Regions from separate parts of the Homo sapiens genome. Here region 2 is linked to region 1. A link means that fine-mapping ties the variant in region 1 to the expression of a gene that starts in the linked region. Tissue or cell type: tibial artery. Region 1 holds a variant in brackets; the other region holds the start of a gene. All regions are shown on one strand. Distances are from middle to middle.

The links. PIP is the estimated chance that this variant, and not a neighbour inherited with it, causes the effect.
Region 2: NKX6-1 starts here. The variant in region 1 is fine-mapped to the expression of NKX6-1 in tibial artery (GTEx, PIP above 0.99).

Annotation. Positions count from the first base shown.
Region 1 is chr4:83,819,222-83,827,327 of GRCh38, reverse strand. No RefSeq gene overlaps it. Among named protein-coding and RNA genes, the nearest start is that of GPAT3, 290 kb to the right of the region's middle. The variant G/A (reference allele first, on the strand shown) is at 4,814.
Region 2 is chr4:84,495,074-84,503,179 of GRCh38, reverse strand. It overlaps NKX6-1 (NK6 homeobox 1), which reads left to right and starts at 3,888. Exons shown (of 3, transcript NM_006168.3): 1 at 3,888-5,621; 2 at 7,336-7,508. The coding sequence starts at 4,952. RefSeq lists an enhancer at 7,060-7,560.

The sequences.
Region 1 (8,106 bases):
CTTTTAAAGGATCTCTTTCCAAATGGAGACTGAAACTGTAGGGTGCTTTGGTTAGTTGGAAGCTTTATTTGTACTTTGACTTTGGTTTGGAAGGACAACATTTTGAAGATTTTCTTATCAGTAGTTAGTCAATGATTACTAAGGTAATTGGGTTCTCTGATGTGATGGATTGAAGTGCCCAAGAAGATGTCACTCTCAAATGTAATCTCTGTGAGTCTTAAGCACCACCTTTCTTGGTCCAAAGAAAGGCAAACTGAGACACAAGAGAAGAGAAAAATACTATGCACATTATAAAAATCTTCCATTTGTAAACTTAATAGGACAAATTGAGTTTTGAGAAAATACTTCCATAACTAAGGCATCTGGCATAATGAAAAAAAAATAGAATTTAGATAGCCTTGTTGATTTATTGTTGCTTAACAGTTAAAAGGAAATTGTTGAGATTCCTGTCTTATTTTGAAGAAATTAGCAGCTTCTTTCATCAGCAAATGTATATTTTTTGTTTATGAGAAGCATATAAAGACATTATTGATAGCACTATGAAAATTATATGCTAAAAAATTACAACAGCCCAAACTCCTACAGCCTTAAAGAAATTGAGGCATATCTAACAGGAATTGGTGCTCAAGGTTTTTTTAAGCTCACTTGCCTCACATTCATCTTCCATTATTTTTAGTTGGTCCCTATGGGAATCTATGATGGAGCTTGGAGAATGTTTCCTTATGTTCTTTTAATTTCAAGAGCACTTGCTATTTTTTTTTTAAGTTCTGTTATGGGCTGCCTGTTTGTGTCCCCCAGAATTTCATGTATAGGTACACTAAACCCCGGTGGGATTGTATTTGGAAGTGAGGCCTTTGGGAAGTAAGTAGGTTTAGATGAGGTCATGAGGATGTTGTCCCAGTGATGGGATTCATGCCTTTATAAAAAGATGAAGGTTGAATTTTATCGAAGGCCTTTTCTGCATCTATTGAGATAAACATGTGGTTTTTGTCATTGGTTCTGATCATACAATGGATTACGTTTATTGGTTTGTGTATGTTGAACCAGCCTTGCATCCCAGGGATGAAGCCAACTTGATCGTGGTGTATAAGCTTTTTCATACGCTGCTGAATTCAATTTGCCAGTATTTTATTGAAGATTTTCACATGGATGTTCATGAGAGATATTGGTCTGAAGTTTTCTTTTTTTGTTGTGTCTCTGCCGGGTTTTGGTATTGGGATGATGCTGGACTCATAAAATGAATTAGGGAGGAGTCCCTCTTTTTTAAGGCACTTATACACCATGGAATACTATGCAGTCATAAAAAAGAATGAGATCATGTTCTTTGCAGGGACATGGATAAAGCTGGAAGCCATCATTCTCAGCAAAACTAACAAAGGAACAGAAAACCAAACTCCCCATGTTCTCATTCATAAGTGGGAGTTGAACAATAAGAACACATGGACACAAGGAGGGAAACATCACACACCAGGACCTGTTGGGGGATGGGGGCAAAGGGAGGAAGATCATTAGGACAAACACCTAATGCATGCGGGGCCTAAAACCTAGATGATGGGTTGATAGGTGCAGCAAACCACCATGGCCCATGTATACCTATGTAACAAACCTGCACATTCTGCACATGTATCACAAAACTTAAAGTAAAATGAAAGATAAATAAAAAATAAATAAATTGTTTAAAAAAGATGAAGGGACCAAAGCCATCTAGTCTGCGGTATTCTGTTATAGCAGCCTGAGCTGACTAAGATAAGTCCCAATAAGTTTTTCCCCCAAAAAAGTATTAATGCTTTTTGGAAATTACTTATTTTATCAGATAAGAAAATACCATTTTGATGGGAAAATATCTAACATTATTTTAGGCCAAATATTAAACTAATTCAAATTTGCCCTCTCTAACCTTTTTTTAGATTTGCCCTACAGGCTGCCCCTGAAACTTTGAATACTGCAAATGAATTTAAGAGCACAACATAGCCATTTCTCCACTGGTTGGCAACCCAACATCTCCCACAATCCCCAGATGTCCCAGCCTGACTTATTGACCATGTAACACAGTTCTGACCAACAACATATAAACTTGAGTTTGTTAGGTGGGACTTCTAGGACAGCTAGAATCTATCTCCTGATTTTTAAAAATAGAAATGAGGGGATGAATTCAGTTGACATAGCCCTTAACTTCTTCCTCCTTCCTCAACTTTCTGACCGGAATGCAGATGTTTGGTCTGGAGGTGCAGCATCTACCTCGTAACCACGAGGCAACAAGCTGGAGGACAAAAACATACACAGAAGGGATGACAGAGCAAAATATGGAAAAGGCTTAGTACTTGATGGCATCACTGAAGTATCATACTAGCCATAAGCAACCTACCCCAGAACTTCTTATTGTGTAAAATAAACAAACCCCATATCTTTAAGCCACTGGTAGATTTTCTGTTGCTATCAGCCAACTGCATTGCTGATGCTAACATAACCCGACGAAAGTAAAAACAGGAAGGAGGGGATGGTGTGAAGAATAAAGTCATATTTTTTTTAGAATTACGAGCCAAGCAAAACAAAGTAGGAGAGTCAACCAAAGTTTTCAAGATATCAAAACCCAGCATTATGTGGTAGAACATGGTCGAAGCCTAGCCACAGATAGAAATGTACACCTTTTGTTGAGAATGATGGTTTCCAGCTTCATCCATGTCCCTGCAAAAGACATGAGCTCATCCTTGTTTATGTCTGCATCGTATTCCATGGTGTATATGTGTCACATTTTCGTTATCCAGTCTATCATTGATGGGCATTTGGGTTGGTTCCAAGTCTTTGCTATTGTGAACAGTGCTGCAATAAACATACATGTGCATGTGTCTTTATAGTAGAATGATTTATATTCCATTGGGTATATACCCAGGAATGGGATTGCTGGGTCAAATGGTATTCCTGGTTCTAGATCCTTGAGGAATTGCCACACTGTCTTCCACAATGGTTGAACTAATTTACACTCCCACCAACAGTGTAAAAGTGTTCCTATTTCTCCACATCCTCTCCAGCATCTGTTGTTTCCTGACTTTTTAATCATCACTAATCTGACTGGCGTGAGATGGTATCTCATTGTGGTTTTGATTTGCATTTCTCTAATGGCCAGTAATGATGAGCTTATTTTCATGTTTCTTGGCCGCATAAATGTCTTCTTTTGAGAAGTGTCTGTTTATATCCTTTGCCTACTTTTTGATGGGGTTGTTTTTTCTCGTAAATTTGTTCCTTGTAGATTCTGGATATTGGCCCTCTGTCAGATGGATAGATTGCAAAAATTTTCTCCCATTCTGTAGGTTGCCTGTTCCCTCTGACGGTAGTTTCTTTTGCTTGCAGAAGCTCTTTAGTTTAATTAGATCCCATTTGTCAATTTTGGCTTTTGTTGCCATTGCTTTTCATGTTTTAGTCATGAAGTCTTTGCCCATCCCTTTGTCCTGGATGGTATTGCCTAAGTTTTCTTCTGTGGTTTGTATAGTTTTAGGTCTTACATTTAAGTCTTTAATCCATCTTGAGTTAATTTTTGTATAAGGTGTAAGGAAGGGATCAAGTGTCAGTTTTCTGTGTCTGGCTAGCCAGTTTTCCCAACACCACTTATTAAATAGGGAAGCCTTTCCCCATTGTTTGTTCGTGTTAGGTTTGTCATAGATCACAGGAACAGAAAACCAAACACCGCATGTTCTCACTCATAAGTGGGAGTCGAGCAATGAGAACACATGGACCCAGGGAGGGGAACATCACACACTGGGGCCTGTTTGCGGGTGGGGGAGCTAGGGGAGGGGTAGCATTAGAAGAAATACCTAATGTAGATGACGAGTTGATGGGTGCAGCAAACTACCATGGCACGTGCATACCTATGTAACAAACCTGCACGTTCTGCACATGTATCCAGAAGTTAAAGTATAATAAAATAAATAAAATAAAATAAATACAGCAAAAGTTTAAAAAGCAGATTCTAGAGTCCTACCCTAAAATAAAATAAAAGAAAAAAAAAAGAAATGTTCACCTTTTCAGCTAACAGCAGTATTGAGGAGTTCTCAAAGTGAAGGACTGAAGGGGTTCTTGAGACAAGTCACTCAGAGCAATAAGCCTCTGTTGCATCGTTTTGAAATGGAACATTTATAGCACATTTTAAGTCAATACCTATGTGGTTTAGGTTACAGGAGGGCAAAGAGGTGAAAACTTGCAGGTAGAGAAGTTAAGGCTTCTTAAGACCTGATTCTATTTATTTAGTTTTAGTCTTGCCTGAGGTGGGGTGGGGAGCTGGAGAGATGCAGGGTGCTAATTGTTTGCTATTTATTTAAAGTCCATCTATTCAGAGGGAATATTCCTTAAGGTCAAAGATTGAATCTTCTAATCAAAACTAGTGCCTGACACACAGTGGGGATAAATGCTCATTGAATAAATGAATAAATGCCATTTCTATATAATTCACCTGTTGCATTTTTTTCAGGCTTAAATTCTCTTTAAAAAAATGATTCATACGGTAAAAAAAATTAATTTCTGATTTTTTTCTTCTTGATATTGCTTGACCTTTCCTCATAAAAACACTATTTATCTCTTAACATAGCTCCAGTTTCATTCCCACCATAAGGGTCTGTGAGGAATCTATTGCTGTAAATGGAATAAATGAAGACAGCAAGAGTTCTGTGTCCTTATATTCATCTCCCGGGAGCCTCTACTACATTTCTGTTGCTTCTCTACCTTCTGAGAGTAAATGGAACAAAAATCTAACACTGTATTTAATGAGAAAATAATTGACTATTTCCTTTACAACACAGTTAGAGCCAAAAACATCCATGGG[G/A]ATCAGTTTCCAACATTTTCACACAGAATTGCACAAATTCCAGTGATGATAATATAAAACTTAATTCGGATTCCATTTGTTTTTCACTTGCCAGGGGGAGATTTGAAACAATGGGTAATCCCACAGTTCTCTTTTTTATAGAAAATTTAAATAAACAGCTTTCTATTTACGGAGTGAGGAAAGCTCTGCCTGACAATTATCAAGCAAGCAAGGCTGAAATACCGCACCACAGAGCTCATCCATCTATGGTGTTTTTTCACATGGCTGTGGCACTGAATGATGGCAGCAAAGCCATGCTGGGAACTTGAACGCCTTTTACCCAGCATGGTGGCATTGAGGTTGTTTTAGGCCTTGAGAATAATAATGACTTAAGTTGTTATAGTACCTTTTAAGTCAAAAGATGTTTAAGTGATTTTCCCTACCCACCAGGTTTAAACCTTCGTTTGCTCTCGCATTTTTAAAGCATTGCAGCATGAATCTGAGACCACAAGCACAAGTGGTGCAAGTGGCTCAGAGAGACGAAGAGTTTGGGAGGCAGAGTGAAGAGCCCACAATAAAACTGATAGCAATGGATGGAGTCACATATATTTGATGGAGTCACATGTATTTGACATAAGGGAAACAGCCTCTGGGGTGCACTCAGAGGTAATCACCAGTGTTCATTAAAAGAGAAGGTGGAATTTAGCAGACTTCTAGTGTGAATCCATCCCAAATTGGCACCATTTAAACCCTCTGCATGAACACCACTCAGAACTTAATCTTCCTCCTCAGCATGAAGCTTCATTCTGCACCTTTCTCCCAGGCTGAGACTCCAGGGCCTGCTGCTTTCCTGGGAGAGCAACAGGAAAGAGTTGATGGCTGAGTAAAGTTGCAGGGCCATTAGTGACAAGGCAGGCCATGACCCCATATCCTGCCATCCCTGCTGCTCCATTACTACAGTGGCTCTCAATTCATAGGAATAAAATAAAGGAAGAGAAGGGCCAATTTAACACAGCAGCAAACTGTTTTTTTTTCTAAGCAGTCAACCATTTTGTCAGTAGGAAATAGTTGTCTTCACAGATGTCAAGCAGTTAATCACCCCCAAAACCCCAAGAAGAAAAAAGGGATGCAGGTGCTGACATCTCAAGGTCTTGAACACCAAGTTTATCTATTCTTAAAGTGAGTTGCAATTGATTTCTCATCTGTAAAATACCTACAGTGTTGCTGTGAATTTAAATGACTTGATTTATGAAAAAAATAGAAACAAAACTCACATATAGTTAAGTACTCAGTACTTATTCAGTCAATCCAATGTCAATTTTTGAGAACAGAACAAGCACTGAAGAGTCAGCATGGAACCAGGTGGTTCGAAAAAACTACATATTAATTACTAACATATAGGAAAAGTTTGCAACAAGTTTTGTTTGTTTGCTTCTACTTTTAGATTCAAATTTTCTATCACTTAGAAAAATAGTCACAAGGCTAATTTAGATCTCTGAAGGAACAAATTGTAAAAATTTTTCTTAAAATGTTTTTACATAAATTTTAAAAATTGGAAGCAATGTCTTTCTATTATATACCATAAAAACCTATATTAGTCAGTGAAGTCACCAAATTCAATTTTGTTACTACTCAAAATATTAATTTTTAAAAAGTAAATGACAAAATGGTTTTAGCTTCATTGTCAATAGTGAACTCCTCTGATAACTTTTTTAAATTACCTACTTGTATTTTAACACTTGCATGGAAAGTTTTAAGGTATTCAGTAGCTTGATAAAATCAAGCAAATTGTTACCAATGGAATAAATTTCTTCATCATACTCAGATTCAGTCTTCGGTAATTTAATTCAAATTTTAAAATTAACATTAAATAAAGTGCATCAAGATTCTCAGATGAACAGTTTGATTAGTCTGTATCTAAGTGTTCTGGTTAGTCTAAATAAAGATCAATGTGCTAGAAAATTACAGGAGAAATAAAAAATGAATGACCTGCCATAATTTGATTAGTAAAATTGAAACATGTATTTTTTATGTAAATTCAAGATGCACAATGTCTTGTTTCTTTCCTCTTCTTAGAATCAATGAAGAAATAAATATGTATTATATGCCTCTAATGGCCAAGGCTCTGTGACCAAAGCTGTGGAACCCCTAGAGATTTATCAATTACTGTTCCACAATGGTTCTTCATCTAGAAAATGGTAGGGCAAATTGGATGCAGTCCTTTTATAACTATAGTTAGAGTAGTCTTTATTGAATAAGTTTCTTATTTAGATATCCTACCACTGTAACACCATCTATATATTTTATCTATCTGTTAATCTCTTGTCATGTTACTAAAATGAATTAACAATAATTTACCAATTGGAAGAGCATGCCCAATAGACATTTTATCTGTAGCTCACATAATAAGTGGCCAATGCCTAGCGCAAGAATGAAAAGGGAAAGGGAAATAATATTTGTAAAATGTTTAGACAGGGTTTACTATGTGTTGGATGTTTTATACATTTTCCCTCATTAATACTCATAATAATCCTATGTGGTAGATATTATTATATCTATTTTATAAGTGAGCAGAATGAGAGTGATATCAGCAAGATGACAGAATAGGAATTTCTAGCACTCGTCCTCTTGCAGAAATATGAAATTAAACAACTATCCACACTTAGTATATCATCACAAGGGCTAAGAAATTCAAGTGAGAGATTACAGCTCCTGGGTGCAGCAAAAAGAGAGATAATGGGCTGATATATTCAAAGTGCTAGGAAAACAAAATCAGTCAACCAAGAATACTATACCCAGCAAATCTGTTCTTTAAAAATGAAAGAAGAAAAATACTTTCCCAAGCAAACAAAAGCTGTGGGAGGGCATCACCACTAGAACTGCCTTATAAGAAGTGCTAAAGGGATTTCTTCAAGTTTAAATGAAGACACTAACAGCATGAAAGCATATGAAAATATAAAACTCACTGTAAATATAAAAATACAGTTAAGTTCAAAATACTCTAATATTTTAATGGGGGTACATAAAGTACTAAAAACAAATACAGCTACAATAATTTTTTTTTTCGAGACAGAGTCTTGCTCTGTTGCCCAGGCTGGAGTGCAATGGCATGATCTCAGCTCACTGCAACCTCCCACCTCCTGGGTTTAAGCAATTCTCCTGCCTCAGCCTCCTGAGTAGCTGGAATTACAGGCGTGTGCCACCACACCCAGCTAATTTTTTGTATTTTTAGTAGAGACAGGGTTTCACCATGTTGGCCAGGCTAGTCTTCAACTCCTGACCTCATGATCCACCCACCTTGGCATCCCAAAGTG
Region 2 (8,106 bases), 680 kb before region 1:
TGTTGGCCTCCACTGGGAGAGCGCCGAACGCAAGATCCTACGGCGCTTTTCCACGCTGTCTGCTTCAATTCTTCCCAAATCTCTACCTTAAGTGCTGGGCAGCAGAAGTTGTGGCAAAGGTGCAGTTTCCACTCTACGGCGTTTATAGGAAGCAAAGAAAGACAGACACGTTCTCCCCCTCGCCCTGCTATCCTTCCTCAAGGGTAGGTTGGTTCAAGCTTGGGGACATTCTTCCTTCTTCCTTGTATTTCTACCTAGCAATCAGCTCAATCCTTTTATGACATTCAGTTAAACCCAGCTGTCCCGCGGGTTCAGCACAAACAGGCCCTATTCGTCAGGTGAAATGGAGTTATTAAAGAAGTCATCCAGACACTTCAAGCAACTGCATTTTAGAGAGATTTTTGGACTGAAACACACACATAATTCCCTTCATTCCTCTCCCCATCCGACCCCACCCCACCCACTTTTTTTCTGCAGAATAGAAATTGACTTTCTGCTGCTACACTTGAGTATCCCGACATTTGACATTACTGTATTTGGGGCAAAACCGTTATCATCCCTCCCTTCAGAATGTTAGTACGTTTAGCTGAGAGTTCATTTGCATTCCTTCCGTTAGTTACCTTGAATTTGGTGGCTATTCTTTTAACTTAAAACAAGTATCAAAACGCGCTTGGCATTTCTGCGTCAAGGGTTAGACTGCAGGTAGAGAGGTCAAGTGGACGGCACAGACTAGGCAACAATGCCAGCAAGCTAAAAACAGTAACCAGAAAACAAATGCTGTTGTTTCCAGCCTCAAAGTCGAGGAGCACAGAACCTTCCTCACCGCCACCCTTTAAACCCTTTTTGCAACCTCAGAATTTGCCAAACCGCTTTCATTTATTTTTCAATTAAAATGCAAATCATTTGCTTTCAAACAGAGCCCCCCCATCCCCATTAGATATACTGCGTAGAGATGCGCCGGGATCCTTGCGACCACGTGTTACACGTCCACTCCCAAGGGGTACTTGAAAAAGTCCCACTTTATTAGGTCGTGGGCAGGAAGGCATGCTGGTTTCGGAGGATCCCCAAGAAAGAGCAAGTCCTGACTCTCAAAGGCATCTGAAGGCAATGCGTTAAGACTGCCCCACCAGAAACAAGCCTCCCGCGTCAGCGGGACCAGGACTCGGGTCCCGAAACTGGTTTCAACCACGCAGTTAGAGCGGAGGGCAGGGCGATCTTCCCCCGGGAGTGACAGGGGGCAGCCCACCCTCTCCGAGGACGCTCCATCGTTGTCACCGCTCCCAGCTGTAGACAGGCAGCAGATCCACTACAACTAGCACCTGGCAGGAGGCACCGGCCTGCCTTCCCGTGCTGCCCAGCGTGCGTCTGCAATACACGCTGCTCTACGCGGGATCGAGCACCCGGGGCTCACCCCCTCACTACCAGGGATCAAGGTACACGGATCCGGAATTTTTTATTGTCATAATTAAGAACAATGCTGCCATTTTAATTTGGCAATGCAAATGATACGTAAAAGTGAACGATGGAGACATCCTTACACCAAGCGTTGCAACTATTTACTCAAGACAGTTCACCCTGAGTTGGATTGAGTTGAATCTCAGTCTCAATCTCTCCCCCACCCCCGTGTCTCTCTTTGGCAACCCCGCCTCCAATAGTAGATACTAACATTCTCAATAGGGAAATATTCAACTCTCTTCCGAGTCATAATATTTACATGAGATAAAAAGGGGATCACTCTTTAACATTGGAATCTTTGGGGATGACTGGCCTCTTTTCCTCCCAATTCCTACCTAGTCCTTGAGAATGCAGTGTCCTGGAGGATGTGAGGAGGTCGCTGGAGGGCCAGGCGCAGAGTGGAGACTGAAGGTTGGGTACCACCGCCAGGGTGGAGTGTCCGAAGGCGAGAAACGTTTCGTTTGTAACGAAGCCAGAGACATAGGCCCCCCAGTTTCAAGGCTAGGACGGGCTATGCCTGCCACCATCCTCCCGCAGCTTCCTGGCCGAGGTGGCAGGGCGCTGGGGTTTAGACCCAAGCACTGGATCCCCGCGTGGAAATGCAGAAGGTCCGCACATCAGCTCTCTTCTGAAGCAAGTCTTGGCTTGACTCCTTAGCACTATTCATGCTGACGAAGGACTTCACCTTACCCCAGGTCAGATTCTAAAGTCCATGAAATAATAGATTTAAACCAGTCTTGAAGTTAATGAAGAAAGATAAAGGAAGAGGAGGACCAAATAACATTGCTTCTATCTTAGAAGGAAATAAAACTGGCAAATATAACCCTTCCTTCCCCCAGTTTCAGACTCAAACTCAAGCTGACCCTTAAAAACTAGTGCTTAGTAAACGAAGGTTATCGAAGCGGAGTACGCCCTCCTGGCTTTTCGTGCTTGGACCCAAATGAGCGCTTTGACACCAATAGCTAAACTCCATCCGTCGGTGGTGCTGATCAAATTTTATTCTTGAGCCATTTATTGCGTTTATTTCTGTTTTCTGCTCATTAAAATTGTAATTAATGATCTCATCCAAATTTGCTGTAGCGACCACCTTCCAATGGTGTGTTACTTTAACATGCTGAATTCTCAAAATTGTCAAAGGGTTTTCCTTCTCCAGCCCGCAGTTCAACCCTGTCGGGAACGTAAAGATCAGCCAGAGATGGAAGAGATTTAGAGAGTAAAGGAAGCCACCCTTCAACTCCTAAACTCTAGATAGACATCCCACCACCACTGTCCAGGAGCTGGTACATCTCCATCTCCCGTAGCAACTCTAGAATTGGGAGTAGGCGCCAGAGTTTTGGAGAGGGTTTTCAAAAGCTTACAGTTCCCAGGGTGTACCTAGATGCTTCTGTATCTAAAGTTTCCGCCTGAATTTTGATGATTCTACCCCCATGTAAACCCAAAGGAAATAACAACAATAATCAAAGGGAGAAAAGTTAAGGGAAAAAACTCCCTCACTGTTCTCAGGTATAAACATCATCTGACAGATAAATATTCCTATTAAACGGATTCAGTTTTCAGCGAATTGAGTAACCCATAAATGATAATGAACGCGGTGGGAAGCGACGGGCGGGGGGGAACTCGGGAATGAAAAAAAAAATAAAGTGGAGGAGAAAGAACAGAAAAGGAAAGCAGGAGGTGGAAAGATGGAAGAGGACGATCCTTTGGCCTACAAGGGGATTAAGGACATCTATAAGGCTTAAGGAGCAACAAATTAATTTACACAATTCTGGGAGAGCCCAGATGGCCTTTAATTAATCCCTTCAAAAGAAGGAGCCAGGCCAGGGCTGCGCCGGCTGCCTGCTCCATTAGCTCCATTTTACAAGGGACCAGACTTGGTTCGAGGTGAGGCGCCCTCCAGAGCTGGTGGGGGAAGGGGATAGGATGACGCGAGCGGGCTAGTGGGGAAGCAAGGGAAGAATATGAACTGCTTTTCCATAAAAGGGCTGAGTTTTCATTATTCCTCTCTTTAAAAAGTAATACCCTCTTCGTCTCTGCTTCCCCCTCCCCTTTCTCATTTTATTTAGCACAATTAATTGAGGCGGCCACTGGCCCCAGCGCGGAACCGCACCACTCACCAGCTCCCGCCCCTCCTGGCCCCGCCCACAGGAGAAAGAAGTAGGGAGCGGGAGGGGACTAGGCGGGCGCGGCCCTACGCCTGGCCCGCCTCAGCCAATCAGAGGGTGCGGCGCCCCCGAGTGGGCGAGCCCCAGGGGCGACGCAAGGATCGAGGCGGCGAGCTATTGGACACGGTGGTTACGCCCCCGGCCTGCGCCCGGCTCGCCGGCCCCCGCAGCCTCGGAGTGACGTCCCTCAAAGTTCTCATTTTGGTCCCCCACTTCCCCCTCCCTTTCGTCCCCCAGCTAAAGAGGGGTAGGGAGTGATGCAAATGTTTTATTACCTTTGAGAGCTTCATCTGAACTGTCAGGCCCGGAGGGAGAGAGGAAAGGAGAGAAAGAGCGGAGGAGCCGCGGAGAGGGTCAGTTTGGCCAGAGGACAGGACTTAGAAGACCGAAGCCTGGGAAGCCGCGAAGAAAATGCCAGAGAGGAGAGTCAAAGGCTGAGAGTGAGAGGGAGAGAGGGAGCGGGGGTGGGGCGGGGGTCGCCGGGCCCGTTTGCAGAAGTGGACTGACGAGCGGCGCCGAAACCCAGCCGTCAGACTTTTCACACTTAGTCTTTTGTTTTTCTGTGTTTTTCCTCCCCCTTTTTCTTTTCAATATTGCAACTCCAGTGCCCCGTGGGCCAGAGGGCAAGGCGGGTGGAGGTGAGGACCTGGGAGCCGCGGGGATCCGTGGCACTGCCCTTTCTGGCGCAGCAGCCCGGGGCAGCGTGGGCGGAGGAAGCCCGCACAGAGGCTAGATCTCCCGCGGGCTGGATGCGCTTTCTCCCCGGGCACAGTGAGCGTCGAATGCGAATCAGCCGCGCGACCGAAAGAGCAGAGCATCCCAGTAAGATCAGAGGAGCGCCACGGGCTGCACAAGGCGTCCTTTGAACCTCCCCAAAGAAAGCAAGCCACCCCCACCCTCCAACTTCAAAGTGGAGATTCGGCAACTAACTTTGCTACAAACTCTCCGGAGCCAGCCTGGGTTTTGTTTTGCTTATTTCCCGGGGGCAGAAGATGAGAAGTAGCGCACTTTGAACAGCTAGGAAAAGTGAGGAAGAGAGAATAGCCAGGGATCGAATCTAGGACTCGCGGAACGAAAGGACTGCCTAGCCCGCCGGGACGCCTGCTTTTCTCGGCGAGCTGCCGCCTCCCGCGTGGAGGGTTTGGACATCTCTGCTGCGCAGCTAGGCGAGCAACTCCCGGCAGCGGCATTTTTGGTTCAGTTGGCAGCTCGCCTCCGGGCGCGCCGAGTGCCTCTCCGCTCGCGCCCTCGGCGCTTCCGGCTCCTCTGAGCCCCGCGGGGGGCACCAGCCAGCGCCCTCGCTGCAAGGCTACGGTCTCCGGCGTGGCCGTGGGATGTTAGCGGTGGGGGCAATGGAGGGCACCCGGCAGAGCGCATTCCTGCTCAGCAGCCCTCCCCTGGCCGCCCTGCACAGCATGGCCGAGATGAAGACCCCGCTGTACCCTGCCGCGTATCCCCCGCTGCCTGCCGGCCCCCCCTCCTCCTCGTCCTCGTCGTCGTCCTCCTCGTCGCCCTCCCCGCCTCTGGGCACCCACAACCCAGGCGGCCTGAAGCCCCCGGCCACGGGGGGGCTCTCATCCCTCGGCAGCCCCCCGCAGCAGCTCTCGGCCGCCACCCCACACGGCATCAACGATATCCTGAGCCGGCCCTCCATGCCCGTGGCCTCGGGGGCCGCCCTGCCCTCCGCCTCGCCCTCCGGTTCCTCCTCCTCCTCTTCCTCGTCCGCCTCTGCCTCCTCCGCCTCTGCCGCCGCCGCGGCTGCTGCCGCGGCCGCAGCCGCCGCCTCATCCCCGGCGGGGCTGCTGGCCGGACTGCCACGCTTTAGCAGCCTGAGCCCGCCGCCGCCGCCGCCCGGGCTCTACTTCAGCCCCAGCGCCGCGGCCGTGGCCGCCGTGGGCCGGTACCCCAAGCCGCTGGCTGAGCTGCCTGGCCGGACGCCCATCTTCTGGCCCGGAGTGATGCAGAGCCCGCCCTGGAGGGACGCACGCCTGGCCTGTACCCCTCGTGAGTACTACCACCCGCGCCCCGATGCCTGCCTGCCGTGCCTGTTCTGCCCACTCCCGGGTCGCGGCCCCTGGTGTGCATGCCGCTCAGTCCATCCTGTGGCCCGCCCCAGTAGTTTGACAGCGCCGGAATCACACCAGTTAGGTTGGGCCAGGGCTTCCAGAAAGGGATTCTCGCTTTTCTGAGCTCGCGTGGCTGTATCCAAGCGCCTCCCTCTCTCTAAGTCTTGAGTACGCCTGGGCTGAGCCGGTGTGTGTGTGTTCGTGTGGACCACAACGCGGTGAGGGACGTGTGTCTCGTCCGAGGCCCTGGCTGTTCCTGAAACGGCCTGGCCAGGACCGCAGGCCTGGCCTGGATTAGAAAGATGGGGAGGAGAGGGGAGGAGAGGCCACTGCATCTCTGCTTTCCCGGCTCCTCCCTGTCGTCCAGCGCCCCATTCCGCCTTCGCCAGCCTAACCCGCTGCCTCTCTTCGAAGCAGTGAGGCCCGGCAGCGGTGAGCCCTCCACCGCCCGGGAAGTGAGTGTATTTGCATGCACGTCTCCGCCTGGGGTGTCCCCACCTCACCTCTTCGCCCTCGCCGCCCGAGTACACTCGGCCTGGGTGAGCCCATTGAAGACAGTCCAGCGTCCCCAGGGCAGGGCGAGCGCTTCCAGCCGCTCACCAGCGCTGGGCCCGCGCTTTCCCACCTGCCTCCACTCTGGGGGCTGGCACACGCTGCGTCCGGGCACATTTGGGGACATCGTGGAGCTCAACACCCTAACACAAGAGCGAGCCAGGAGAAGAGTGAGATGAAGGGACACGGCCTGGGGAAAATGTACCATCCCGCAAAGACCTTGCTTGAGGCAAACTGAGTTGCCCCAAGATCACGCTAGTCTTCGGGGTAGTAGGCCGCAGCGCCGCGGAGGCTCCCAGCCTTCCAGGTGGACTTCAGGGCCCAGCCTGGGGTCCTTTTCTCGCTCAGTTCTTCGCCTTTCAGCGAGTCTCCGAAGTTTCTTCCAAGTCTCCGGACCTCCTTAGTGCGGCTGAGCGGCAGTAACTGCGGGAAGTTGCGAAAGCCAAGTGGAGGTTCTCTTGGGAAGCCCGGGGACTGTGGCAGCCGGGCCTGGTGGGGGTGCCAGGGAGACGCTATTGTATCGGTTTTGATGGCCGTATTAGGGGCCGCCAACAAAGGCTGTGCCCCCTCCCCCTTCCCCTCTCCCCCTCGGCTGCAGCGACGTTAGACTTGGGGGCGATTTAGCTCTCTTGTGTGCAAAAACAAGGACCCCTTTGTTGCCTGGACACAGGTTAGGGAAGCGTTGAAGGAAAAAAAAAAAAATCTAGTTATTCTCACTTAAAGGCTCCGGGGCCGAACGAGCACCGACTGGATTAGGAGGCGAGAGTGGCCTTTTTCTGGCAGTCGTTAATTTAATGGGGCCTTGCGATTAGGCTCTGGCAAACTTTAGCAATAGGCTCCCTAGCTGTTTGACGTCGGTGTTGAGCAGAAGGTATTTACTGCTGCGCCAAACACGCGGCTTTTAAAAAACAGGTGGATGTAAAAAAGCAAAGGGAGACGTGCCGTTAGTCTGGAAGCGCCACTACACTTCTGGTGTCCGCCACAGACTGAGCTTTCTTTCCCCACAAAACATTGTTTTTCGAGTTCGTTTTTTCCCCCTAGTGCAGCCGCTTGTAACCGATTGTTTTTCCCCCTCTCTCGTTGTTTATTGGTTCTCACAGATCAAGGATCCATTTTGTTGGACAAAGACGGGAAGAGAAAACACACGAGACCCACTTTTTCCGGACAGCAGATCTTCGCCCTGGAGAAGACTTTCGAACAAACAAAATACTTGGCGGGGCCCGAGAGGGCTCGTTTGGCCTATTCGTTGGGGATGACAGAGAGTCAGGTCAAGGTGAGTGGACCTTGCATACCTGGAGGGATAGGTACCGCCCCTGTCGCGCGCGCGTGCACACATGGGCACACACACACACACACACACCCCAAACTAACAAACAGTCGCCTGGGAGGTGCGAATCCAAGGAGCCTGGGGAGAAGTTGAGAGCAGTGAAGGAGGGTGGGGACTACAAAGGCGCTGGGGTCTTGCAGGCGGGCAAACTCTTGATGAACAAAAGGAATCAAGTCCCCGCCTTTGAAATTAGGTTAATCTATATAGCAGCATGTGCTGGGGGACTCACCATTATTAGAGAATAAAGGCATTACTGAAATATCAGCCCAGAGAATAGATCAGGCCAGTTAGACAGCTTCTACATATCCTATCTGTAGCGATATCCAAGTTTTTGTTTGTCAATTCAGGCTCCACTAGTTATATAATTTCCTAATGTAGATCAGTATTACAGGGCTACTGTATTAATTCGCAAGTAAAAATAAATAAATCCACAGGATCTAACCACTTGCCATAGATGAACCTGTTTTTTAGCTTAGCTTAAGGCAATCGCTTTGGAATAGTAATTTTACAAATGAATTGACAAGATTATTACTGAATTATAGGC